7 linked regions of the Homo sapiens genome follow. The protein of the gene in region 7 purifies or fractionates together with the protein of the main gene of each other region. This does not show direct contact. Each region holds a gene or a part of one and is shown on either strand. Other genes may lie near its edges.

What was found.
Region 1: the proteins of SLC7A8 (region 7) and SPG7 purify together in Homo sapiens (affinity purification with mass spectrometry; one large-scale study listed by BioGRID and IntAct). This does not show direct contact.
Region 2: the proteins of SLC7A8 (region 7) and GBA2 purify together in Homo sapiens (affinity purification with mass spectrometry; one large-scale study listed by BioGRID and IntAct). This does not show direct contact.
Region 3: the proteins of SLC7A8 (region 7) and SPTLC1 purify together in Homo sapiens (affinity purification with mass spectrometry; one large-scale study listed by BioGRID and IntAct). This does not show direct contact.
Region 4: the proteins of SLC7A8 (region 7) and FLVCR1 purify together in Homo sapiens (affinity purification with mass spectrometry; one large-scale study listed by BioGRID and IntAct). This does not show direct contact.
Region 5: the proteins of SLC7A8 (region 7) and CDKAL1 purify together in Homo sapiens (affinity purification with mass spectrometry; one large-scale study listed by BioGRID and IntAct). This does not show direct contact.
Region 6: the proteins of SLC7A8 (region 7) and NUP210 purify together in Homo sapiens (affinity purification with mass spectrometry; one large-scale study listed by BioGRID and IntAct). This does not show direct contact.

The regions. Positions count from the first base shown.
Region 1 is NC_000016.10:89,514,903-89,518,402, forward strand, and holds part of SPG7 (mitochondrial inner membrane m-AAA protease component paraplegin isoform 1 precursor), read left to right. Parts: intron 1-3,500. UniProt on the Homo sapiens protein: Catalytic component of the m-AAA protease, a protease that plays a key role in proteostasis of inner mitochondrial membrane proteins, and which is essential for axonal and neuron development.
Region 2 is NC_000009.12:35,736,366-35,739,228, reverse strand, and holds the end of GBA2 (non-lysosomal glucosylceramidase), read left to right. Parts: intron 1-119; coding exon 120-227; intron 228-325; coding exon 326-477; intron 478-596; coding exon 597-703; intron 704-854; coding exon 855-997; intron 998-1,076; coding exon 1,077-1,192; intron 1,193-1,289; coding exon 1,290-1,481; intron 1,482-1,624; coding exon of another isoform or gene 1,625-1,753; exon of another isoform or gene 1,754-1,781; coding exon 1,782-2,060; 3' UTR 2,061-2,363; downstream 2,364-2,863. Other genes in the region: CREB3 (cyclic AMP-responsive element-binding protein 3), read right to left, coding at 2,503-2,837. UniProt on the Homo sapiens protein: Non-lysosomal glucosylceramidase that catalyzes the hydrolysis of glucosylceramides/GlcCers (such as beta-D-glucosyl-(1<->1')-N-acylsphing-4-enine) to free glucose and ceramides (such as N-acylsphing-4-enine).
Region 3 is NC_000009.12:92,049,414-92,052,913, reverse strand, and holds part of SPTLC1 (serine palmitoyltransferase 1), read left to right. Parts: intron 1-2,846; coding exon 2,847-2,954; intron 2,955-3,500. UniProt on the Homo sapiens protein: Component of the serine palmitoyltransferase multisubunit enzyme (SPT) that catalyzes the initial and rate-limiting step in sphingolipid biosynthesis by condensing L-serine and activated acyl-CoA (most commonly palmitoyl-CoA) to form long-chain bases.
Region 4 is NC_000001.11:212,857,033-212,861,074, forward strand, and holds the start of FLVCR1 (choline/ethanolamine transporter FLVCR1), read left to right. Parts: upstream 1-1,242; 5' UTR 1,243-1,420; coding exon 1,421-2,158; intron 2,159-4,042.
Region 5 is NC_000006.12:20,544,457-20,547,956, forward strand, and holds part of CDKAL1 (threonylcarbamoyladenosine tRNA methylthiotransferase), read left to right. Parts: intron 1-1,882; exon of another isoform or gene 1,883-1,889; 5' UTR 1,890-1,894; coding exon 1,895-2,067; intron 2,068-3,500. UniProt on the Homo sapiens protein: Catalyzes the methylthiolation of N6-threonylcarbamoyladenosine (t(6)A), leading to the formation of 2-methylthio-N6-threonylcarbamoyladenosine (ms(2)t(6)A) at position 37 in tRNAs that read codons beginning with adenine.
Region 6 is NC_000003.12:13,326,323-13,329,822, forward strand, and holds part of NUP210 (nuclear pore membrane glycoprotein 210 precursor), read right to left. Parts: intron 2,625-3,500; coding exon 2,449-2,624; intron 1,116-2,448; coding exon 895-1,115; intron 1-894. UniProt on the Homo sapiens protein: Nucleoporin essential for nuclear pore assembly and fusion, nuclear pore spacing, as well as structural integrity.
Region 7 is NC_000014.9:23,173,661-23,177,160, forward strand, and holds part of SLC7A8 (large neutral amino acids transporter small subunit 2), read right to left. Parts: intron 1-3,500. UniProt on the Homo sapiens protein: Associates with SLC3A2 to form a functional heterodimeric complex that translocates small and large neutral amino acids with broad specificity and a stoichiometry of 1:1.

The sequences.
Region 1 (3,500 bases), on a different chromosome or scaffold from region 7:
TACAGGTGTGAACCACCGTGCCTGGCCTTGACCTTTTTTTTTTTTTTTTTTTGAGACGGAGTCTCGCTCTGTCGCCTGGGCTGGAGTGCAGTGGTGTGATCTCAGCTCACTGCAAGCTCCGTCTCCCAGGTTCACGCCATTCTCCTGCCTTAGCCTCCCGAGTAGCTGGGACTACAGGTGCCCGCCACCATACCCGGCTCATTTTTTGTATTTTTAGTAGAGACTCGGTTTCACCGTGTTAGCCAGGATGGTCTCAATCTCCTGACCTCGTGATCTGCGTGCCTCAGCCTCCCAAAGTGCTGGGATTACAGGAGTGGGCCACCGCACCCAGCCCTGGACCTTTTTTTTTTTTAACTTTTATTTTGTATTTATTTATTTATTTTTGAAACGGAGTCTCGCTCTGTTGCCCAGACTGGAGTCCAGTGGTGCGATGTCGGCTCAGTGCAACCCCTGCCTCCTGAGTTCAAGCGATTCTCCTGCCTCAGCCTCCTGAGTAGCTGGGATTACAGGCATGCACCACCATGCCCAGCTAATTTTTGTATTTTCAGTAGATACAGGGTTTTGCCATGTTGGCCAGACTGGTCTTGAACTCCTGACCTCGTGATCTCCCCACTTCGGCCTCCCAAAGTGCTGGGATTACAGGTGTGAGCCACCACGCCCGGCTGACCTTTTTATAAAAAAAAATTTGCTGGGTAGGTGCGGTGGCTCACACCTGTAATCTGAGCACTTTGGGAGGCCAAGGTGGGATGATCACTTGAGCCCAGGAGTTTAAGACCCTCATTTCTATTATTATTATTACTATTATTATTATTATTTTTTTTTTTGAGATGGGGTCTCGCTCTGTCGCCAGGCTAGAGTGCAATGGCACGATCTCGGCTCACTGCAACCTCTGCTTCCTGGGTTCAGGCGATTCTCCTGCCTCAGCCTCTCGAGTAGCTGGGACTACAGGCGTGCGCCACCACGCCCAGCTAATTTTTTGTATTTTTAGCAGAGACAGGGTTTCACCATGTTGGCAAGGATGGTCTCAAACTCCCGATGTCAGGCGATCTGCCCATCTTGGCCTTCCAAAGTGCTGGGATTACAGGTGTGAGCCACCGTGCCCAGCCTGGAGTTTCACTCTTGTTTCCCAGGCTAGAGTGCAATGGCGTAATTTCAGATCACTGGAACCTCTGCCTCCTGGGTTCCAGTGATTCTCCTGCCTCAACCTCACGAATAGCTGGGATCACAGGCATGCAACACCAAGCCCAGCTAATTTTTGTAGTTTTGGTAGAGACCTGGTTTGGCCACGTTGGTCAGGCTAGTCTCAAACTTCTCACCTCAGGTGATCCACTCGCCTTGGTCTCCGAAAGTGCTGGGATTACAGGTGTGAGCCACCACGCCCGGCCGTTCGTTTTTTTAATAAAAGAAGAAAGTTAGATCACTTGGGGCCAGGAGTTCGAGACCAGCCTGGCTAACATGGTGAAACCCCTTGTCTACTAAAAATACCAAAAAAAAAAAAAATTAGCCAGGTGTGGTGTACGTGCTTGTAATCCCAGCTACTCCGGAGTCTGAGGCGTGAGCATCGTTTGAACCTGGTAGGCAGAGGTTGCAGGGAGCTGAGATTGTGCCATTGCACTTCAGCCTGGATAATAGAGTGAGACCTTTCTGTCTCAAACATAAAAAATTAAGAAAGAAAAGGCCGGGCGTGGTGGCTCATGCCTGTCATCCCAGCACTTTGGGAGGCCAAGGCGAGCAGATCACAAGGTCAGGAGATCGAGACCATTTTAGCTAACACGGTGAAACCCTGTCTCTACTAAAAATACAAAAAAAAAAAAAAATTAGGCGTGGTGGTGGGCACCTGTAACCCCAGCTAGTCGGGAGGCTGAGGCAGGAGAATGGCGTGAACCCAAGAGGCGAAGCTTGCAGTGAGCCGAGATCGCGCCACTGCACTCCAGCCTGGGCGACACAGCAAGACTCTGTCTCAAAAAAAAAAATTAAGAAAGAAAAAAGCGACGGCGAGACTCTTGTCTCAAAAAAAAAGAAAAAAGAAAAAAGTCGTAAGAGAAAATATATTTCCTATTTATGCAGTGGAAGCGGATCACCATAAAGAGCTTCATCCTCATGGCCTTCACCTTGAGTGGGCTGAGGAGGAGGACGAGGGGCTGGTCTTGTTGTCTTGGGTAGCAGGGGTGGAAGAAAATCCACGTGTCCGTGATCATACATAGCTCACTCCTGTGTTGCTGAAGGGTCACCTGTCATAGAAGAGGGAAGAATTGTGTGGCCTGTGCGGATTCTGCATTCAGCCTTGTGTGTTGTGTTACGGTTAACCAGGGACGTGTGCCCCACTAATAACTCTGATTCCTGGAAGGAATGGCATGGCAGCCTCCGTTGTCATGGTTCCTGGAGGGAATGGCATGGCAGCCTCCGTTGTCATGGTTCCTGGAAGGAATGGCATGGCAGCCTCCGTTGTCATGGTTCCTGGAAGGAATGGCATGGCAGCCTCCGTTGCCATGGCAAGGCAAAGCCATGGCAGCTTCCTGGTTATCACTCCTGGCATGTGGTAGGTGCTTGTCCAGTGAAATCCTAGTCGTTGCTGCATTGGCAGGTGCCCTGGCGTGAGGAAGGGCAGGCAGTCACCATGCCCTTTGCTCTCCTGGGCCCTGCATCTGCTTATGGATGAGGCTGCGTGTAGCTGACATGCGTGTCTCTCCTGCATCTGAGTAATTGTCGTCGTCTTTTTTTTTTTTTTTTTTTTGAGATGGAGCTTCGCTCTTGTTGCCGAAGTTGGAGTGCAATGCCACGATCTCGGCTCATTGCAAACTCCACCTCGTGGGTTCAAGCAGTTCTCCTGCCTCAGCCTCCCGAGTAACTGGGACTAAAGGTGCCCGCAACCATGCCCGGCTAATTTTTTGTGTTTTTAGTAGAGACGGAGTTTCACCATGTGAGCTAGGATGATCTCGATCTCCTGACGTTGTGGTCTGCCCACCTCGGCCTCCCAAAGTGCTGGGATTATAGGCGTGAGCCACCACGCCCGGCCAAGTGATTGTTTTATGTTTATTCTGTTTTGGGTTGAACTATAGTTTGCTTGGAGAAAATAATGTCTGTTAAATTTGCGTTAGAGGATAATTGTTTACTGAGCCAAATAATCTTTCTTGTGAGAACCTATTCTGGGTTTCCCCTGGGCCCTCTGCTGTGGTTTCGGCGGGAGTTGGTTTGTGTGGATTTTCAGGACTGCTGACTTGATCAGACAGGCACAACACAGTCCCGGCCCTCAGGCAGGCCTTCTCCCTGGTCTGATGCTGAACTGCATGGCGTCTGTTCAGATGAAGATTCTTTTGCCACCTCCTTAAATGAAAGAACGATACTGAATGTGGCTTAGAAACAGCTTTGCCAGCCGTGCAGAATGATTGTAAGTAGTGGTTGCCCGAAAAGTATTTGCTTGGAATACCACTCACTGATAACACTGGTGAACCTGGAAGGAATTATACGGAGTGAAAAAAGGCACCACTCACTGATAACAC
Region 2 (2,863 bases), on a different chromosome or scaffold from region 7:
CTTCCCTTCATACGTATCTGCATGCTGCTTACTGGTTCCCCACTGCAGTCACACACATAGCTGTGTGCCCCTCCTCAGGCATGCCCATTCCCTGCCTCCCTTCTGTGTCTCTCCCCCAGCTCTGGCCACTCTCAGGGAGGACCTGACACGGCGACGGTACCTGATGAGTGGGGTGATGGCACCTGTGAAAAGGAGGAACGTCATCCCCCATGATATTGGGGACCCAGGTAAAAGTCCACCCCAAGGTCAGCTTCCCTCCCTCAACTTTTGCACCCTCTACCCTATCCACCAATGCAAGTGACCCAAGTCCCCTCCTCTCCCACAGATGATGAACCATGGCTCCGCGTCAATGCATATTTAATCCATGATACTGCTGATTGGAAGGACCTGAACCTGAAGTTTGTGCTGCAGGTTTATCGGGACTATTACCTCACGGGTGATCAAAACTTCCTGAAGGACATGTGGCCTGTGTGTCTAGTAAGGGATGCACATGCAGTGGCCAGTGTGCCAGGGGTATGGTTGGTGTCTGGGAAGAGCCTAGCTGGTTGTTGCCTTTCCTCGGTACCTAGGTCTTCAACATCTTGGTCCCTCTCTAGGCTGTGATGGAATCTGAAATGAAGTTTGACAAGGACCATGATGGACTCATTGAAAATGGAGGCTATGCAGACCAGACCTATGATGGATGGGTGACCACAGGCCCCAGGTTAGCGGGTAGGGGTTTCCAGGAGGCCTGAGGTGAGAAACTGGGCAACAAGGGATTGTAGGGCTCAAGAAAGAATGACTCATTGTCTATTACACGGCATGGGAGCAGCTGGAGCTGCCAGTCTGACCCCCAAACCCATGTCCCTGATCAGTGCTTACTGTGGAGGGCTGTGGCTGGCAGCTGTGGCTGTGATGGTCCAGATGGCTGCTCTGTGTGGGGCACAGGACATCCAGGATAAGTTTTCTTCTATCCTCAGCCGGGGCCAAGAAGCCTATGAGAGACTGCTGTGGAATGGTGAGTTCGGGGAGCCTAAGTAGTCTTAAGGCAGCTGAGAGGACACCAGGAGCCTTATTTTTCTCTTCCTCGACTCCAGGCCGCTATTACAACTATGACAGCAGCTCTCGGCCTCAGTCTCGTAGTGTTATGTCTGACCAGTGTGCTGGACAGTGGTTCCTGAAGGCCTGTGGCCTAGGAGAAGGAGACACTGAGGTGAGAGAGGAGGAGGAGCAGCCAGAGAGAAAAATGGGTTTTCCCTGGAGGTGGGAAGTAAGTATATGAGACCATGTTCCTGCCCTTGCCCCTCCAGGTGTTTCCTACCCAACATGTGGTCCGTGCTCTCCAAACTATCTTTGAGCTGAACGTCCAGGCCTTTGCAGGAGGGGCCATGGGGGCTGTGAATGGGATGCAGCCCCATGGTGTCCCTGATAAATCCAGTGTGCAGTCTGATGAAGTCTGGGTGGGTGTGGTCTACGGGCTGGCAGCTACCATGATCCAAGAGGTAATGCACTCCTTTTCCCATCTCTCCACCATCTGTATCCTGGCCCAGAAAACTTCCTCAACCACCAAATTTCTTCAAGGCATAACCCAATGCCATCTTGTCCGTCTATAAAGCCTCCCATTTTTCCCTGGTATGCATTCCAGCTCCTGCCTTCAGGCTTCTGTCTGTGGGTCATAGTTATCTCCTCCACTTGCTGGGAGCTCCTTGAAGGCAAAGACTCTACTGCCTCCATCTATCCAGTGGAAGTGGCTCTTCAGAGGGTGCCAAGTTAGTATGTATGACTGTCATCTCTCCCAACAGGGCCTGACTTGGGAGGGCTTCCAGACAGCTGAAGGCTGCTACCGTACCGTGTGGGAGCGCCTGGGTCTGGCCTTCCAGACCCCAGAGGCATACTGCCAGCAGCGAGTGTTCCGCTCACTGGCCTACATGCGGCCACTGAGCATATGGGCCATGCAGCTAGCCCTGCAACAGCAGCAGCACAAAAAGGCCTCCTGGCCAAAAGTCAAACAGGGCACAGGACTAAGGACAGGGCCTATGTTTGGACCAAAGGAAGCCATGGCAAACCTGAGCCCAGAGTGAGCCGTCTGAACTGTGGGAGGGAAGTGCTAACAGCCCAGCCTCCAGCCTGGCCTTTCCTCCTTCCCCTCTGAACCTCCTGCAACCCTGAGCCATCAGGACAATCATACCCCTTCCCTTCTCTCCACCCAATTGTGCCAGTAAATGGGGGTTGAGGGTGACCTAGGCAGCATTAGAATCACTTATTTATTTCTTTCCTCACCTGTTCCCTGACTGCGTGAAATGTTCAGGGAGGTCAGTTGATTTCCCCAGGTACATTCATGGTGTGACAGACACATGGGTACAAATAAAAGACCCAGAAAGCCATTAAGTGTGGTGTGTTTGAGCCCTCAGTCGTCCTGACAGGGCACAGGAGCTGCGGCCAGCCCTTGCCCACCGCTTTTTATTTGGACACAGATGGGGAGCCCCCCAGGCTCCTGCTGAGACCCCCCACATATCCTCATATCTAGCCTGAGTATCTGTCCTGCAAAATGACAGAGGGGCTACCAGTAGGAAGCCATCCTCCCTTCCTTGTGAGATTTGCCTGCAGGGGGAGGATGGGACCTCGGCAGAGAGGCTCTGAGAAGAGGTCAGGGAATGGCCACTCCAGGGGAGGCTCTGCACTGGGAGCCTGAGGCATGTAATGCAGCAGGCAGGAAGTGTTGCCAGGGGCCTGGAGTACACAGTCTGAGCCGTCCAACCACTGGTGTGTGCTGTCTTTCGGCACTTCTGACTGCAGGGCAGGCAGCTCCAGCTGGTAAGGGTCCTCACTGGGGAGGGCACGAAGCTGGCGGGACAACACTGAGGAGACAAAGAATCTTCAGAGG
Region 3 (3,500 bases), on a different chromosome or scaffold from region 7:
TAAAAATTTTGATGATGTCCAGTTTATGTGTTTTGTTGTTGCTTGTGCTTTTGTGTTTTATTTTAAAATCTTTGTTTAATCTGGCCGGGCACGGTGGCTCACGCCTGTAATCCCAGCACTTTGGGAGGCCGAGGCAGGTGAATCATTTGAGGTCAGGAGTTCGAGACCAGCCTGGCCAACATGGTAAAACCCCGTCTCTACTAAAAATACAAAAAAATTAGCCGGGTGTGGTGGTACACGCCTGTAATCCCAGCTACTCGGGAGGCTGAGGCAGGAGAATTGCTTGAACCTGGGATGTGGAGGTTGCAGTGAGCCGAGATCACGCCAGTGCACTCCAGCCTGGGCAACAGAGCGAGACTCTGTCTCAAAAAAAAAAAAATAATAATAATAATCTTTGTTTAATCCAAAATTATCAAGATTTATTGCTATGTTTCCCCCTAAGAGTTTATAGTTTTCAGTCTTACATTTAGGTCTGTAGTTCATTTGAGTTCATTTTTGCGTATGCGTTGATGAAGAGGTCCAATTTTATTCTTTCACAAGTGGTTATCCAGTTTTGCCTGCATCATTTGTTTAATGTTTCCCCATTGACTGGTCTTGGCACCCTTGTTGAAATTAATTGACCATAGATGTATGGGTTTATTTCTAGACTCTATTCTGTTTCATTCTTCTATATATCTGTCCTATGCCAGTACCACACTGTGTCAATTATTGTAGCTTTGTAGTGAGTTTTGAAATCAGGACATGTGAGTTCAACTTTGTTCTTTTTCAAAATTATTTTAGCTATTTGGGGTCTCTTGAAATTCCATTTGAATTTTAGGATTAGCTTTTCCATTTCTGTAAAAAGTATTGTTGGGATTTTGGTGGGGATTGCATTGAATATGTAGTCACATTGGGAAGTATTACCATCTTAATGATATTAAGTCTTCCAGTCCATGAACTTGGGATTTTTCCATCTATTTAGATATTTCCTTCAGCAATGTTTTGTGATTTTTAGTATATACGTCCTGCACCTCTTTGGTTAAATTTATCACTAAGTATTTGATTTTTTTATTCTACTATAAATGGAATTGTTTCCTTAATTTCCTTTTTAGATTGTTTACTGCTATTTATAGAAATACAACAGATATTTGTGTATTGCTTTTGCATAATGTAACTTCTGCTGAATTTATTAGCTCAAATAATACTTTTGTGGATCTTATTCTATGTATAAGATTACACCATCTGTGAATAGAGATAATTTTACTTGTTTCTTTTCAATTTGGATGCCCTTTATCTTTCTTGCCTGATTGCCCTGGCTAGGACCTCGACTACAGTGTTGACTACAGGTGGCGAAAATGAGCATCTTTGTCTTGTTCCTGATCTTATAAGGAAAGCTTTCAGTCTTCTACCATTGAGTATGATGGTAGCTGTGAGTTTTTTATAATAACCTTTTATCAGGTTGAGGAAGTTCCTTCCCATTTTTAATTTATTGAGTGTTTTATCATGAGAGGTTGTTGGATTTTGTCAAATTTTTTTTCTGCATTTATTGGGATGATCATGTGGGGTTTTTCCCCCTACATTCTTCTAATGTGTATGTAATACATATTTGATTTTTCCATGTTGAACCACCATTGCATTCGGCCATTGAGATTTTAATCTAGGAGTCTATTAATTGAATAAGGATTCAAAATAAGGGTTCCATATGTTGTTTTTAAATGTTTTCACTATTTCTGAGGAAATCTAAATATATTTTAAGTATCAATAGAAGAGATGTATTTGTTTTCTTCTTTTTGTTTTTGTAAGAGTGTCAATGGTTGATAGAATAATGGGAGGGAGGTAGTGAACCAGAAGATACTAGGACGTATATTATAGGGCTACAGTAATGAAGCAGTGCTAATGGACAGATACGAAACTAAAGATGAAGTGTAGGAACAGCTCAAGTGTAGATAAGCACTGAAGCTGGGCATGGTGGCTCACACCTTTAATCCCAACACTTTGGGTGGCGGAGGTAGGAGAATCACTTGAGCCCAGGAGGTCAAGGCTGCAGTGAGCCATGATCCTACCACTGCACTCTAGCCTGGGTGGCAGAGCAAGACTCTGTCTCAAAAAAAAAAAAAAAAAAATCAGTATTGTGCTGTCTTTTGTTAAGTGAATCATTTTAGACCATCTAAAGGACAATTGATTCTCATCATTCACCCTACTTATATTCTATAAAGTTGCCATGAACACTGGAATAAGAAATACTAAACTATTGCTGCTAGGGCAAATAATAGGGTTAGGTTCCTCTGAGCCTCTGGTTACAACATTTTCATCAACCAGTTGACACAAAACTTGCTTTATGTGTATTTTTGTTTAAAGGTGTCTTATTTAATGTCTGTTGATTCATTGCACTACCACTCATGCCTGAACAAAGCTTCTCTAACACACAAATTTTCTCCATAAGGGACATCACAGCACTAGGAGTAATAGACGGCACTTTAGCATGACACTTGGGGGCGACTCTAAATAGCAAAATCACCAACAAAAAGCACAGAAGTCCAAAAAAGTGGCAGTAAATAGGCCATGAAAAGGGTAGTTGTTCACAGGATCAGAGCTGAAACAGTCGCCTGTTCACCCTCACCTGGGAAAACACGTGTCAGGTAATTCAAATTCTTCACTGCTCTGCACATGCACATATCCGTGATGACAGGAAAAAAGTATTGATATGGAGGTTGCAAATAAGTTTTAATAAGTAGATGAATTTGCACATATAGAATTCACAAGTATTGAGAGTCAGCTGTACATACTTTTTAATCTTAATTTTTTTCTCCATAATATGTTCTATATGGTGCTAATCATTAGTATTTTAACGTTTATATAACACTTAGGTTAAGTTAAAATACAAATACAAAGCAAGAATCTTCCTGGAGGAAAGCCTTTCATTTGGAGTCCTAGGAGAGCATGGCCGAGGAGTCACTGAACACTATGGAATCAATGTAAGTTCCCCTTTTTTAAGAACGTTTCCCCTCTTATAGGAGACATGTAGTTCCATTCTGCTAGGCCTATATTTTTATAGGCACAAGACAGTGTTCCTTATCAGTTTGAAGGGTCACGAAACTTTGGTGTCTGTCACCTCAGTGAGCCCAGGATGAGTCTAGTCAGCCAGACCAGGGAACCCCATCTTCCTTCTGCACTTATAAACTCGGAGTGGGTAGTCATGGTTTGTGCTCTGTTTGCAAAGTTTCATTCGAATAGACTTTTAGTGTCTCTTCTCTAGAAATGGTTAAATTTTGCCTTCCAATTATTTCTTAAAATCATTAGGAATTTCCTGAGTGGTCTTTTCAGAAGTATTCATGACGGCAGAGAAAGGATACTGTTTCTGGTGTTTAAAAATCTGTATTCTATATAATGTGTTTGTGGGAGGTAGATACAGTTACGCGTGCGTGCGTGTGTGTGTGCATGTGTGTGTGTGTCAGAAACACCACTGGCATGCATTCAGCAAAACCTCTTAAAGTCCCAAACAGAATGAGGTGTCATGTTTC
Region 4 (4,042 bases), on a different chromosome or scaffold from region 7:
ACGGTACAGCGCCCTTGGGAAGCCCTTGTGGAGTTAAGGGTGATGCCCACTTCTTTGTCTCCCTCATTCTGTTTCGGTGGCTCTCTCGTTCCCAGTTCCAAGCTGCCCACTTGTTAGAGGAGCCACTGCTTACCAGGCATCTGGTTTAATAAAACATGGCTAGAGCGACTGCATGTTAAAGTGAGTAACTAGGCACTCACAAGGCACCTATAAGGTTAATGCTAAAGGTCTGAAAATAGCCGCATTCTAAGCTGACCAACAATTATAATTACACAATATTTATGGCCATACAGGACATCTCCCACCAAGTCTGCGGAATTGTCCAGATGTCCTGAGTTTTTTTTTTTTTTTTAGACAAGGTCTCACTTTGTCGCCCAGGCTAGGCTGGAGGGCAGTGTGGTGCGATCTCAGCTCACTGCAACCTCCGCCTCCCAGGTTCAAGTAGTTCTCCTGCCTCAGCCTCCTGAGTAGCTGGGACTACAGGCATGCACCACCACGCCTGGCTACTGGCTTTTTTTTTTTTTTTTTTTTTTTTAAATAGATGGCATCTCAGTATGTTGCCCAGGCTGGTCTCGAACTCCTGGGCTCAAGGGAGACTCCTGTCCGGCCTCCCACAGTGCTGGGATTACAGACGTGGCCACCGAGCCCGGCCCAGCCCTCTACTCAGAGATAACGTCAATGCGCAGGCTTAGGTTGAAGGATTAATGGTCATTAGTGCACCAACAGCCCCTACCTTTAGTGGGCACATCAGCACATTCCACGATTAATCACAGCTCCTCACAGCTGCCTCTAAGTAGTGACACTACCGAAGGACGGGAGTTCCTCCTCCTGCAGTCTGAGGACTTGCACTCTCTAACGGAGTAGATTCCAATAAACTTGCTTCCTTCACTGCGCTCTGTGACTCGCCTCCAATTCTTCCCTGAAGTAGACCCAAGAACCCTCTCTTGGGGTCTGGATCGAGACCCCTTTTTCCAGCAACACAACCCGCGGGGCCGCCTCCCGCCCACCCTCAGGTGCAGGAGACCCCGGGCCATGCATCCTTCCGGGCAGGAAAATGTCAGCCAGCGCTCGCCGGCCGCTTTCCTCCCCCGCCTCCCGAAGTTCTCGCCCGGTAGCTCCCCGACTGGCTCTCGCGCCGGACAAAGGCGCACGCTGATTGGCCGGAGGGCCGTAGTCATGCAGGACGCGCGACTCTAGGGGCGGGACCAGACAAGGGGTGACTGCCGCGCGGCGCGGGGGAGGAGACCTTCATCTGTTCACGCGGTAGCGCGGATTGCGGTTCGCGGCGCGCGCCACCGGGGAAGGAGCGGTGGGCCGAGGGGTTGGAGGTGGGGCCCCAGGAGGACCTCGGGCTGTGGGCCGGGAGAGCGGAGTCGGGGAGTGGGGCGGGGGAGCGAGGTGGCGCCGGGGAGCCTGGGATATGGCGCGGCCAGACGATGAGGAGGGGGCGGCGGTGGCGCCCGGACACCCGCTCGCGAAAGGATACCTCCCGTTGCCGAGGGGCGCGCCCGTTGGGAAGGAGAGCGTGGAGCTGCAGAACGGGCCCAAAGCGGGCACCTTCCCGGTGAATGGGGCCCCCCGGGACAGCCTCGCTGCCGCCTCGGGAGTTCTGGGCGGGCCTCAGACTCCACTGGCCCCAGAAGAGGAGACCCAGGCCCGGCTGCTGCCTGCGGGCGCGGGAGCTGAGACCCCGGGGGCCGAGAGCAGCCCGCTGCCCCTTACGGCGCTCTCCCCGCGGCGCTTCGTGGTGCTCCTGATCTTCAGCCTGTACTCGCTGGTCAACGCCTTTCAGTGGATCCAGTACAGCATCATTAGCAACGTCTTCGAGGGCTTCTACGGTGTCACCTTGCTGCACATCGACTGGCTGTCCATGGTGTACATGCTGGCCTACGTGCCCCTCATCTTCCCGGCCACCTGGCTGCTGGACACCAGAGGCCTGCGGCTCACCGCCCTGCTGGGCTCCGGCCTCAACTGCCTGGGTGCCTGGATCAAGTGCGGCAGTGTGCAGCAGCATCTCTTCTGGGTCACCATGTTGGGCCAGTGCTTGTGCTCGGTGGCCCAGGTGTTCATCCTGGGCTTGCCCTCCCGCATCGCCTCAGTGTGGTTTGGGCCCAAAGAGGTGTCCACAGCTTGTGCCACCGCCGTGCTGGGCAATCAGGTAAGTACTGGAGTGGTAGGTGAAAGTCAGATCCTTAAAAGACCGGAAAAAGTCATAGGCCGTGAGAACTATGGCCTGTATGGATGAACTGCCCCAGGAGGTATTTGTCTATAAAAGAGGAGATGAAGCCGTTGAATAGGAGGCCGTCTTGGATTGAAGTGGGCTATAAATTTCTTTGTAAGGACAAAATTTTCCAAACGACCTTGTCATCTTGCTTTGAAAATTACCTATAAAATAATTAACTGGGCCGGGCGCGGTGGCACACACCTGTAATCCCAGCACTTTGGGAGGCCGAGGTGGGTGGATCACTTCAAGTCAGGAGTTCCAGACCAGCCTGGGCAACATGGGGAAACCCCGTCTCTGTTAAAAATACAGAAATTAGCCAGGCCTGCTTGCGGGTATCTGTAGTCCCAGCAACTCAGGAGGCTGAGGCAGGAGAATCTCTTGAACCCGGGAGGTGGAGGTTGCAGTGAGCGGAGATTGCACCTTTGCACTCCAGCTTGGGTGACAGAGTGAGACTCTGTCTCAAATAATAATAATAAACTGTAACCATAATAATAATAATAATAATTAACTGTATTGGCTTGTGTATGCCTAACATGGAAAATTTGTCAATGCAGTAACGAACAAGACTTGGGGTATTATTTTTGTCACCAGTGTATTTGTGAAAGGAAGGTATTGGGTTCTGGGAAGATTGTTTCCATTTTGAGAGGTCATTGTGAACAGCTCCCTTTTAATTTCATATATTAGCAGTCAGCACAGTTCCTGGCACATAAGGGACACATAAATGACTGCTAACCAAAAGTTCTGGGCTGGGCGTGGTGGCTCACGCCTGTAATCTCAGCACTTTGGGAGGCTGAGGCAGGCGGATCACTTGAGGCCAGGAGTCTGAGACCAGCCTGGCCAACATGGCAAAACCAAATACACAAAAATTAGTGGGGCATGGTGTGGTGCATGCCTGTAATTCCAGCTACTCAGGTGGCCAAGGCATGAGAATCTACATGCTTATTGCTTTATAGTCATTTCCCTTATCTAAAAGTACAGAAGATGGAGTAGGTTGAACTATAGTTGTTTGTCCAAAATAATTTATGACTGATACTTGAGTTGGTTGCATCTGCAGGTTTGGACAGAAGCTATTATAAAGTTTTTTGTGTGTGTGGTTTTTTTTTTTTTTTTTTGTAGAAATGGGGTTTCTCCATGTTGCTCATGCTTGTCTCGAACTGCTGAGCTCAAGCTCTCTGCCCACCTCTGCCTCCCGAAGTGCTGGGATTACAGGTGTGAACCACCACGCCCGGCCATGATTACATTTTCTTTGTCACACATCTCTCAGTTTAAATTCATTTTTAAATATTCAGTAGCATTTCTTGATCCCATTTAGAGTTGCCCAGTCACTCTCTTTACATTATTTTACTTTAATTCTCCTTATAGCACTCATCCCTGTCTCATATGTTATTGTTTACATGTTCATATGTTACTTACCTATTACTTTTCTCTTATCCCCACCATTAGATTGTAAGTTTCATGAAAATAGGAATGTGGTCTGAATGTACACAGCTGTATCACCAGCATTTATTACTCTCCATAAAACCATGTTGAATAAATAAAGGAGCTTCAGACTCATACAGATACTGGCCAGCTGGATAGTCTACTTGGATATCTCATGGGAACACACCACTCAAAATTGCTTTCTCCTTGCTCATTTCCCTTTATCTCTAATGCCACTGTCTTGGTTTGGGCCACCCACAGCTCTCACCTAGAGCTTGCTAACTGTCCTCCCTATCTGTAGCCCTTGCTGTCTTCCCTCTGTTCTCGCATTCATCCAGCGTGGTCTTTTACAATGTGCAAATCTGTTCCGGGCACATCCTTACCCCCTGCAGTGGCTTC
Region 5 (3,500 bases), on a different chromosome or scaffold from region 7:
ATGGTGGCGCGCGCCTGTAGTCCCAGCTACACGGGAGGCTGAGGCAGGAGAATGGCGTGAACCCAGGAGGCGGAGCTTGCAGTGAGTCGAGATCGCGCCACTGCACTCCAGCCTGGGCCACAGAGCGAAACTCCGTCTCAAAAAAAAAAAAAAAAAAAAAAAAAATTGGGTAGACCAGTTCTTCTTACTTTACTCTTCTCAAAATTGTTTTAAATATATTAGTTTCTGTACATTTCCATATAAAATTTAGGATAGTCTTATCTATACCTACAAAAAAATCTTCCTGGGATTTTGATAGGGATTATTTTAAACTTGTGTATCAGTTTGGTCTCCACTGACACTGCAAAACTTCATTACTGGTCGGTTGGTTGGTTTGAATGTCCAGGATCCCTCCAGGTCCTTCTCTGATTCTACACTAGTGGAGTGTGTTGGGGTGCTTGATTGTAGGTAGAAGTCCAAGCTCTCCCCACTTGGCCTTTGTAGCGTGCCTGGGGGTGGGATTACAGTTTTGTGTGTGTGTGTGTGTGTGTGTGTGTGTTTGTGTTTGGCTGGAGTAGAATGATTATTATCTAAAACTTTTCTGTCTTCCTAGGCTGCCCTTTGTATAGTTCTTTAACGAGAAAGCAGGCTTTTATTGGGGGGTTTTATTGTTGGCATCTCTTGCCATTTCTGATTGCTGGGATCTTTAGTGAGCTGTAGGAGGCAGAAGAAAACCCAAGGAACTCATCATATTCCTTGGGTCCTGAGGTTCATAGCCAGTCTGCCTTATGCTTGTTTTATATATAATGTCCAGAGTTTTATTTGTATTTTGCTGGCGGGGCAGGGAAAAATGTGCTTATCTTCTTGCAAGCTGTGTCCACATTTTCTTCTTTTAATTATAAAAATTTTGAATATTTAGAAAAGTCGTATAGGATAATGAACATGAACCTATCTAGTTTCTAGTTTTAAGAGTTGTAAATGCTTTTCAGTATGTCTTAATCTATTTTTTCTTCTTTTTTGAGATGGAGTTTTGCTCTGTTGCCCAGGCTGGAGTGCAGTGGTGCACTCTCGACTCACTGCAACCTCTGCCTCCTGGGTTCCAGCGATTCTCCTTCCTCAGCCTCCCAAGTAGCTAAAACTGCAGGTGTACACCACCATGCCTGGCTAATTTTGTACTTTTAAAAGAGATGGGGTTTCACCATGTTGGCCAGGCTGGTCTCAAACGCCTGACCTCAAGTTATGCGCCCACCTCCCCAAAGTGCTGGGATTACAGGCATAAGCCACCCAAAGTGCTGGGATTACAGGCATAAGCCACTGTGGCTAGCCAGTCTATTTTTTCTGAGGTCCTTTTAAAGTAAATTATAGACATAATGACATTTCACTTCTAAATATTCAATATGCATCTCTAAAAAATAAAATTTTTGAATATAAGGACAATACTTTATATCGAATGATTTATAATAACTTCTTCATATTATCTAATATCCAGCTTATATTCTGATTTCCCTAGTTATACCCAAAATTTCTTATAGCTTGACAGACAAAGAAGAAACAATCAAGAACATGAACTGCATTTTGTTGTTAGGCTTTTACGCTTCCTGTTATCTGAAACAGTTCCTCTCCTACTTTTTCCTACTTGACATTGATTTGTTGAAGAAATAGTTCCTGTTGAACCTTGGAATGTCCCATTGTCATTAGGGTTTTGTCTGATTGTTTCATTGTGTTTCTTTTTTCAATATACCCAAGATAGTACTTCATCCTTGTGTTTCTTTATCTCTTGTATTTTCTATAAATTTGAAGTTAGATCCAAAGGCTTGATTAGATTCAAATTTGGTGAGAATATTTCATAAATGATGCTACGCTAAGCAGATTTTCATAAGTTGATTTTATTTATAACTTTTATGTGGTAGAGAATATGCCTTCTGCATCCTGTGATACACTACTGGATGACATCGAAGATATCGTGTCTCAGGAAGATTCAAAACCACAAGATAGGCATTTTGTAAGAAAGGATGTTGTCCCGAAGGTACGAAGGCGAAATACCCAAAAATATTTGCAAGAGGAAGAAAACAGTCCACCAAGTGACAGGTAAGCTTTTTTCCTTGAAATTATATTCATTTTCTTTTTTTTTCTTTTGAGACAGAGTCTTGCTCTGTCGCCCAGGCTGGAGTGCAGTGGTGTGATCTCGGTTCACTGCAACCTCCTCCTCCTGGATTCAAGCTATTCTCCTGCCTCTGCCTCCCTAGTAGCTGTGATTACAGGCACACACCACCATACCTGGCTATTTTTTGTATTTTTAGTAGAGATGGGGTTTCACCATGTTGGCCAGGCTGGTCTTGAACTCCTAACCTCAGGTGATCTGCCCACCTTGGCCTCCCAAAGTACTGGGATTACTGGCCTGAGCCACTGAGCACGGCCGAAATTATATTCATTTTCATTCCAGGGAGAAGCTGACGCTACTGGTCTGTGTGATATATATAATGTCTCTTCATTAGAATCTTTGAACTTTTGATAGGAAATACAAGTTGAGTATCACTTATCTGAAATGCTTGAGACCAGAAGTGTTTCAGATATCACATTTTTTTTTTTGGATTTCGGAATATTTGCATTACATACTTTCCAGTTGAGTATTCCTAATCCAAACATCTGAAATGCTCCAGTGAGCATCCTTTGAGTATCATTTTGGCACTCAAAAAGTTTCAGATTTTAGAGCATTGTGGATTTTGAATTTTTGAATTAAAGAAACTCAACCTGTATGTAGATTTTTTTTTTATTTGAATGATTTTAAATTTGGCAAGGTAATTGGTTAAAAAGAAATGAGATGTCAAATTGGATGTTCCTAGAAGATAGCCTCGGGCAATAGGGATCTCTTGGGTATTACTGTAGTTGATATGTAAGTCTGTGTTATTTCCAAATAAAATTTTTACCAGAGTTTGTGATTCTTATGAGACAGTAGTATTTTGGACATTTGAATTTTCTTAGCTGATTTTCAAATACCTGTGGATCAGGTAAAGGCAGTGGGCACAAATAAATTATTGCCCTATTTACGCTATTATAGTAGATCTCTAGTCCGTGAAATTTTGATACAACCTAACCAGAAAGGATAATGTAATTATATGGTTTTAATAAGCCTATATTTGTTTATCTAGTCAACTGCTGAACTTTATAATCTGCTTATTTTGTTGGGAAACTAAGCTTTTAAATTCTTGGAATTTAAAATTTGCTTATATTTTAATGACTGAAGTTTATAAAATTTGTCCTAAATGTGTCCTTAAGGTAATTTTTATTTACTTATAAATTATTAGAGCAATCCAAGTTGAAAGTCCTTTTTTCCCCTAAAAGTTATTTTTAGAACTCTGATTTTATAGAGTGCTTTTAATAATGCTTTAGGATGACGGTTTTTAACTTTGATTAAGTTACTTATATCTGTAAGTTTTAAGGAAGCTACAGATTGCAACTAGTATGTAGGAATCTGTAAACAGACATACTTTTCTTTATTTGCCATTGCTGCTAGAACCACT
Region 6 (3,500 bases), on a different chromosome or scaffold from region 7:
TCCCCATCCCTTCGTTGCCTTATCAATTCCTTTTTAGCAACAGACAGCAGGTGTGAGGCTCAGAGCTTTCACCACATACACATCTGAGTTAAAAGCCAATCACATTATATAATAAGTACAATTAAAGGACTCAACCATAATCTATTTATGGCAAATTATATTTGTTTTTCCTTAAAGGTAGTATTTCATCTCCTTTTAAAATGAATTTAGTAAGGTTAAAAAAAAAGGTGGAGACAATTTGAAAATAAAAGCTAAGTAAATAATTGTACACGTGTTCCACAGATGTACTACAGGTCACCTGGGCATGGCTGAAATTTGGAAGCCCCTGATTTAGCCCAGTGTCCTTCTTTGCTTAAGTCTCCCAGCCTGTGCTGTCCACTATGGCGGCCACTTCCCACAGAATTCACTAAAATGGTGAATTCAGTTCCTCAGCAGCAGCAGAGATCCGTGTGTCTCCTGGCTAGAGGAACTGAGTGAGACTATGCAGAGACAGGATGCCCCACAGGGGCAGGGGACCCCCCCACCGACTTGGCAGAGCTGTTCCAGAAAAGGGCTGGCAAATGCTTTCTGTGAAGGTCGGACATAAGCATTTGGGCTATGCAGCCCATACAATCTCTGCTATGACCACACAATCTGGCAGTGGTAGGGTGACAACAGCCACTGACCATACATAATGCATGGCACAGCTGAGTGCCAACAAAAATTTACTTGCAGAAAACAGGCACAGGCTGGATCTGGTCTCCGGGCAGCAGTTTTGGAGCACTGCTCCTGAGTATCCTGCAGGTCTGCCTGTAGGCCCCCGTGACTGGTGCCGAGCCCCTGCCCAGGTAGCCCCCACCCAGCTTTGCAAGCGTCCGTGACTCCACAGGTTCCCTTGCTCAGGATCTATCTTACCTTCCAGGCTGGTCAGAACAGTGGCCAGACAGAGCACGTCCCCCACCACCATGGCCCCAGACAGCTCTGGGGAGATGGCCTGTAGGACAGGCAGGGGCATGAAGTCCGAGAGGCCCGGGTGCTCTGCGTCCCACACACGGAGCAGTGTCAGGCCCACGCTGACTGTGCGGACAACGCAGGTGTTGTTGGTGGGGCCCTTCCCGATCTGCACAAAGTCGTCTCTAGGCACAGGAGAGAAAGGAGGGCTCTCAGTCTCGGGAAAGAAGCTTCCAACTCCCAAAGGGAGAAACGTAATCCATGTCCTCTGCTGAGCAAAGCATTCAACTGACTGAGGTCCCAGGTGTGGCCCCAACTCGAGGTTACCAAGCAGTGGCCCCAGATGAGGGACCACTGCAGGCAGGTGGCACAGGCTCGACCTCCTCACTTGTCATGCCAGAAAGCACATGCAGCTCGCAGCCAAACAGTGGCAGCAGCATCATTCCTGCATTTCAGAAAGGAAGCTGAGGCCCCGAGGGGAAAGAGATCCAGAGTGCTTCCTCACGCTCTTCCCACCAGGGAACTGGACATGCCAGAAAGGGAAGGCTGCCCTTACTATGCAACCTGACTGCAGAAGCAGCCTCTGCCCCTTTCCTCCTCTGAAAAATGGGGATCATCACGTGACCGTGACGCAGGCCTGGCATAAGCATTACATGAGGTCAGCAGTGGGGAGGCACCTGCCACAGGGCAGGTGCTCAGTCAATGTTGGCAATGGCAGCTTTGGTGCAGAAGTGTGGACTGCGTGGGGTGACAGTTTGGGTTAGGGATCATGGCTGCATCCTTGCCTCCACCACACCTTCTGACCCTGAGTGCTGACTAGGTCTCTATCAGGTGCTCCTGCTACAAGAAGGCCAGAATGACCTGCAGTGCAGCCAAAGGGCTGGGAGAACTGGGCTCCATTTCCTCCAGGACATGCCCTAAACTGATGGATGGCAATTATGTGCGCACACACGGAGTGCCATGGTTTGCCAGCGGTCCTCATGACCACTCCCTCAGCTGAAGGAAAGCCCTGGAACCTAGGCCATATTGCCCAACGTGAGAGGTGTGGAAACAGATTTTTGGATGGTGACCTACTCACAGGGCCCACGAAGGGCAGAGCTGGGGCTAGAACCAGGCCTGACTCTAAACCCCAGTTCTTTCCATAAGGCAACACCCCTGACACCTGTCTTTGAATGCATTCAGCAACAGGGAAACACAACTGTGGCAGGACCTGTGGGCAGCCGAAGCTGAAGGGCCAATTTCCTGTGCCTCGGGGAGCACTCCCTGGAGCTGCCCCATGCCCTGTTTCCTCCTTTGGGGGCTGATGCCTGTCTGTCTTCCTCTGAGCTGGTCTACATCCCCCAAGGGCAGTGGTGTTTCCTCGTGGCCCTGCATGGTGCAGCATGCCCACATCTCTTGGAAACTGAAGTAATACACATCTTCCTTCAACAGCAGCAGACTTTCTGTGTTATCCCCAGTTGTCTCTACCAGGTACCAGACAGGACTTCATAGGAGAAATGACCCTTGCCCACATCCTACCTGTTAGTGGCAAAGTTGAGGACCGAACTGTGAGCATGGAAGACATCTCCAGAGTTGTCGTGGAAGTGGACAGTGAAGGTCACGGTCATTCCCAAAGGCACGGCCACCAGGGCCTCCTTGTTCTGGGTGTGCAGGACAGGGCTCATGGAAACCCTCAGGTAGGAAACAGGGGATACCTAAGGGACAACATACAGGTATGATGAGGATTCAGTGCCAGGGACTGGCCTCCAGGAAAACCCACCTCCCAAGGAGGGGACACCTGCCCCCAGCAGGATCCACCTCAGGAACAATGCAGGGCTGGACTTAGGGGTCCTGAGAGGAGTAAAGGCCACACTCCCCAGAGTGTCCCAACCTAGTGACAAGGTTCTTACTTCCCAACACAGCAGACTGGCCTCTCTATGAGAAAACCCACCCAGGAGTGTCCCAATCCATGACTTGAATAAATGAGATCACTATTTACATTGCAAGAGGGCCCCCTGGGCTGCAAATGTCCAGTTTCTTCAGAGAACCTGGCTCTTGGGGCATTTAAAGAAACGAAATCCTCCTCGATCGCAGGGGCAGCGCTAAGCAGGCCACAGCATGCCCTGCAGGCCACCAGGGGAAGGAGGGAAATGGGGATTTCTGGAGCCCAAGAACCCGAGCTCCATAAACAGCAGCCCTTGTTTCTCTGAGTCCAGGTGAAAATCTATCCTCGCTCAAAAGCTAGTGCTCCAAAGGTCTGAATTTCTTTAACAAAGTTCAGTGGTGCAGTGTCTGGTATACAGCTAGTGCTCAGTACATATTTGTTGAAATAGGATGAGCAGTCAGTCACTTTCACTCACCAAAAACTAGAGCGGGGGATTTGCTGCCAGGCACCCATTTTGAAACAAAATGATGTGAATTAATGAAAGAGGTCTGTGACCCAGGCAGAGTCTAAAGATTTAAGTGAGTGTGTGTCTTCTGTCATCCAGGGTTCAGCAAGTGGTGATGATGAGACATGGAAAGAAAATTCCATTCAGCAAAACCCCAGGACCTGACCCAGGGATGCTGATGGAGAAGGTCCCATCCGTAAG
Region 7 (3,500 bases):
TTTTTGAGACAAGGTCTCACTCTGTCACCCAGGCTGGAGTGCACAATCACAGCTCACTGCAACCTCTGCCTCCCAAGCTCAAGCAATCCTCCCACCTCAGCCTCCCTAGTGCTGGGACCACAGGCGTGTGCCACCCCACCCGACTAATTTTTAAATATTTTGTAGAGGCAGGGTCCCACTGTGTTGCCCAGGCTGGTCTTGAACTCCTGGATCCAAGTGATCCTCCCACCTCAGCCTCCCAAAGTGCTGGAATTACAAGTATGTGCCACCCCACCTGGCCAGCTTTGTTTAAATACTCCACAAGAAACTTCCATTGCACAGCTAAGTAAACTGATAATTAGCTTGCTCAAGATTACAAAGATTGTAAATAGGGAAGCGGTTTGCAAACTTAAGACTATCTCTAAAGCCCATCTTTTTCTAATCAGTGGTTCCTCCCAGTCTATGGCATGCCGATGCAAATCATGGAAAAATTCACTCTAAACTTTCTGCTTTCAATATCAGGGTCCAAATACCACCTTAAGTCAACCTGACCTGTCTTTATCAGCTGCTTACTAAACACTCTCTGCAGAACTGTACTCTTAAAAAGCACTGAAGTATTTGTGCATTTCCTAAATGTACAAACAAGCACCTTTAAAACGTGGAGACAGATGAGAAAAGTAATAATTCTGCAGCAGTGGTACTCTTTCTGAGTAATCTGCTTTTGCAATGTGCAGTTCAGTGTGAGGTTGCCTGGTCCACCTTCAGACATTGTGAAACCTTCTCCCCAGAAGTGATGTCACTGCTAATGCTGAGGATATTTAAAGCAGGGAGCAAACCAATGGGAAGACATGTGACTGTGACAAAGATGAGGGATGAGATGTGATCAATAGAGCTTTTCAGCTCAAACTTCACTCATTCTATAAATAAAACAGCTTAAAATAGACTTGAGGGATTATTTTGCCTCCTAGAAATAAAATTCACCAGTGCTCAGGACAAGGCCTAGAATATAATGTGCTCGGTGAGTGTTTGTTAAAATGTGGAATAATTCTGAATCCTATGTCCAGCTGCTCCCACTCCTGCAGCAGAGAGGAGCCTGCAGTTTGCCATTTCCAGATCTCCAGGGAGAAGGGATCTGGGGGCCTGCTCTGTAGACGCGTTCTGGAAGGGGAAAGAAGGCATGGTCCTCCATGCTCTGTATGCTCAGCGGGGAGTTAAACATTGGAAAGAAACAGTTTCTAGCCCCCTGGGTTCCTGAATGGCTCTTATTTTCTGTAGTTTGGGATATACTCCTGGGATCATTTGCATGTGCCTGCTTTTCTAGATCCATCTCCCTCTCCTACAATAACAACAAAACAACAACAGACATTCCTGAGGCATTTCTTTGAAGGCAGCTGTGCTGCTGGATTACCCATCAAAAAGACAGAAAACCTCAGTAGCCTGGCAACTTGAGAAGCCCCAGCCAAGATGCCCCACACCTCTACCCCACTTCAATAAGCTGATTTAACTCAGAAAAGTGTATATATGGTGCTGGCCGCTCTTGAGAAGGTTATTTGGTTTGGGTACAGTGGTGTTTTGTGTTTGTTTGTTTGTTTGTTGTTGTTTTGAGACAGAGTCCTGGAGTAAGCAGTAGTGCAACTTGGCTCACTGCAACCTCCATCTCCTGGGTTCAAGCAATTCTCGTGCCTCAGCCTTCGAAGGAGCTGGGACTACAGGAATCTGCCACCACATCTGGCTAATTTTTGTATTTTTAGTAGAGATGGGGTTTCACCATGTTGGCCAGGCTGGTCCCGAGCTCCTGACCTCAAGTGATCCACCCACCTTGGCCTCCCAAAGTGCTGGGATTACAGGCGTGAGCCACCGCACCCGGCCGGTACAGGGTGTTTTTAACTGTGACTGTTTAAAATGGCTGTCTGGTGTGTCTCTTGGACATAGTTTCTTACCTGCCGGGTTCCTACTTTCTTTCCTCCACTCTAAGCATCTCCTGCTAGTCAGTCATTCTGCGTAACTCTGCTCTTTGAGGGAATGTATTATCGCCCTGACAGTAGCAGATTCAACCAAATTACTCCTTTAGCTCTCTGGTTCCTGGAGTCAGGAAGTGTCCAACAGGATCCCTGGTCCCGGCCACCTTGCACTCCAGACTGAGGAGCATTTTAGTTAAGCCCAGTTGCTTCAGATTTTAGTGACCTTGGTGGGAATCTAGGCTCTACCATCACCTAGCAATGTATGCTCAGTAAATGGCAGCTACTTATTATTATTACATTGCTGGGCATATAGCCTTTCCCTACTCACCAAGATGTGTTTGTTTTGAAATACCTCCTAGCTGGCTTCTGTCCCAGAATTTTATTTGAGAACAATGAGGGTTTTAATCACATTTTCATCCTGAATGAACCAAATCGTAATCCCTCTATGTTTTGTGTGAGTGTATTTGTATTTTTTAATTGAAGTACAAACTCAAGAAGCAGTTTTCACACTCCCTCCCTCTGGTCAACATCCAGTAGACATTTTTGGGATTAGAAGCTAATACATCATATTAGAGACTAAAATGCAAAATCTTCTAAAGTGGTATAGACCACATGGGTGTGAGATCTTTTATACTTGAAATTTTTCCAAGTCAGTCCAGAGCCATTTCAGTACAGTTATACCCATAGCCACACCTCTCTGTTGACAGAAACCCTTAAAATTTTTTCCCCCAATTTTTTCAGTATCAGACATCCGTGGTCTTTCTGGACTCCAGTCTCAGGGTTGTCTTCCTCCATGGCCAACTGCCCCACCATGCAATATATATCAGCCTCCTCCTGTCTTGGTTACCAATTAGAAATGAGAAATGGCTAAGTGTTCTGGCTATGGAGTCATCTCAGTTATCAGTGGTGTGACCCTAGGAAAATTAGCTACCAGCTCTGTGACTCAATTTCCCCATTTTTAACGTACAGGTAATTATAATAAGTACTGTCTTAAGATTGTTGGGAAGATTGAATAAAATAATATATGTAAAGAGCTTATAGCTCAGGAATTGGCATTTAGGCTGGGCGCGGTGGCTCACACCTATAATCCCAGCACTTTGGGAGGCCAAGGCGGGCAGATCACTTGAGGTCAGGAGTTCGAGACTAGCCTGGCCAACATGGTGAAACCCTGTCTTCACTAAAAATACAAAAATTAGCTGAGCGTGGTAGCTCGCGCCTGTAATCCCTGCTACTCAGGAGGCTGAGGCAGAAGAATCACTTGAATCTGGGAGGGAGAGGTTGCAGTGAGCCGAGATTGCCCCACTCCACTCCAGCCTGGGCGACAGAGCAAGACTCTGTCTCAAAAAAAAAAAAAAAAAAAAAATTGGGATTTAGTAAGAGCTCAATAAATACTATTTTAAAAAATCATGTTAGTTGGGAGATAGTGGTCTAGTAGCTAGATCAGCATCCAGTATTGTTCTGTAGCAAATATACCAAGATCCCCCAAAAACATAAATTGTGCTGAAAACAAAATGGTCTGACATTATATACTTTTTAATTTTATTATTACAGCTCTCTGGC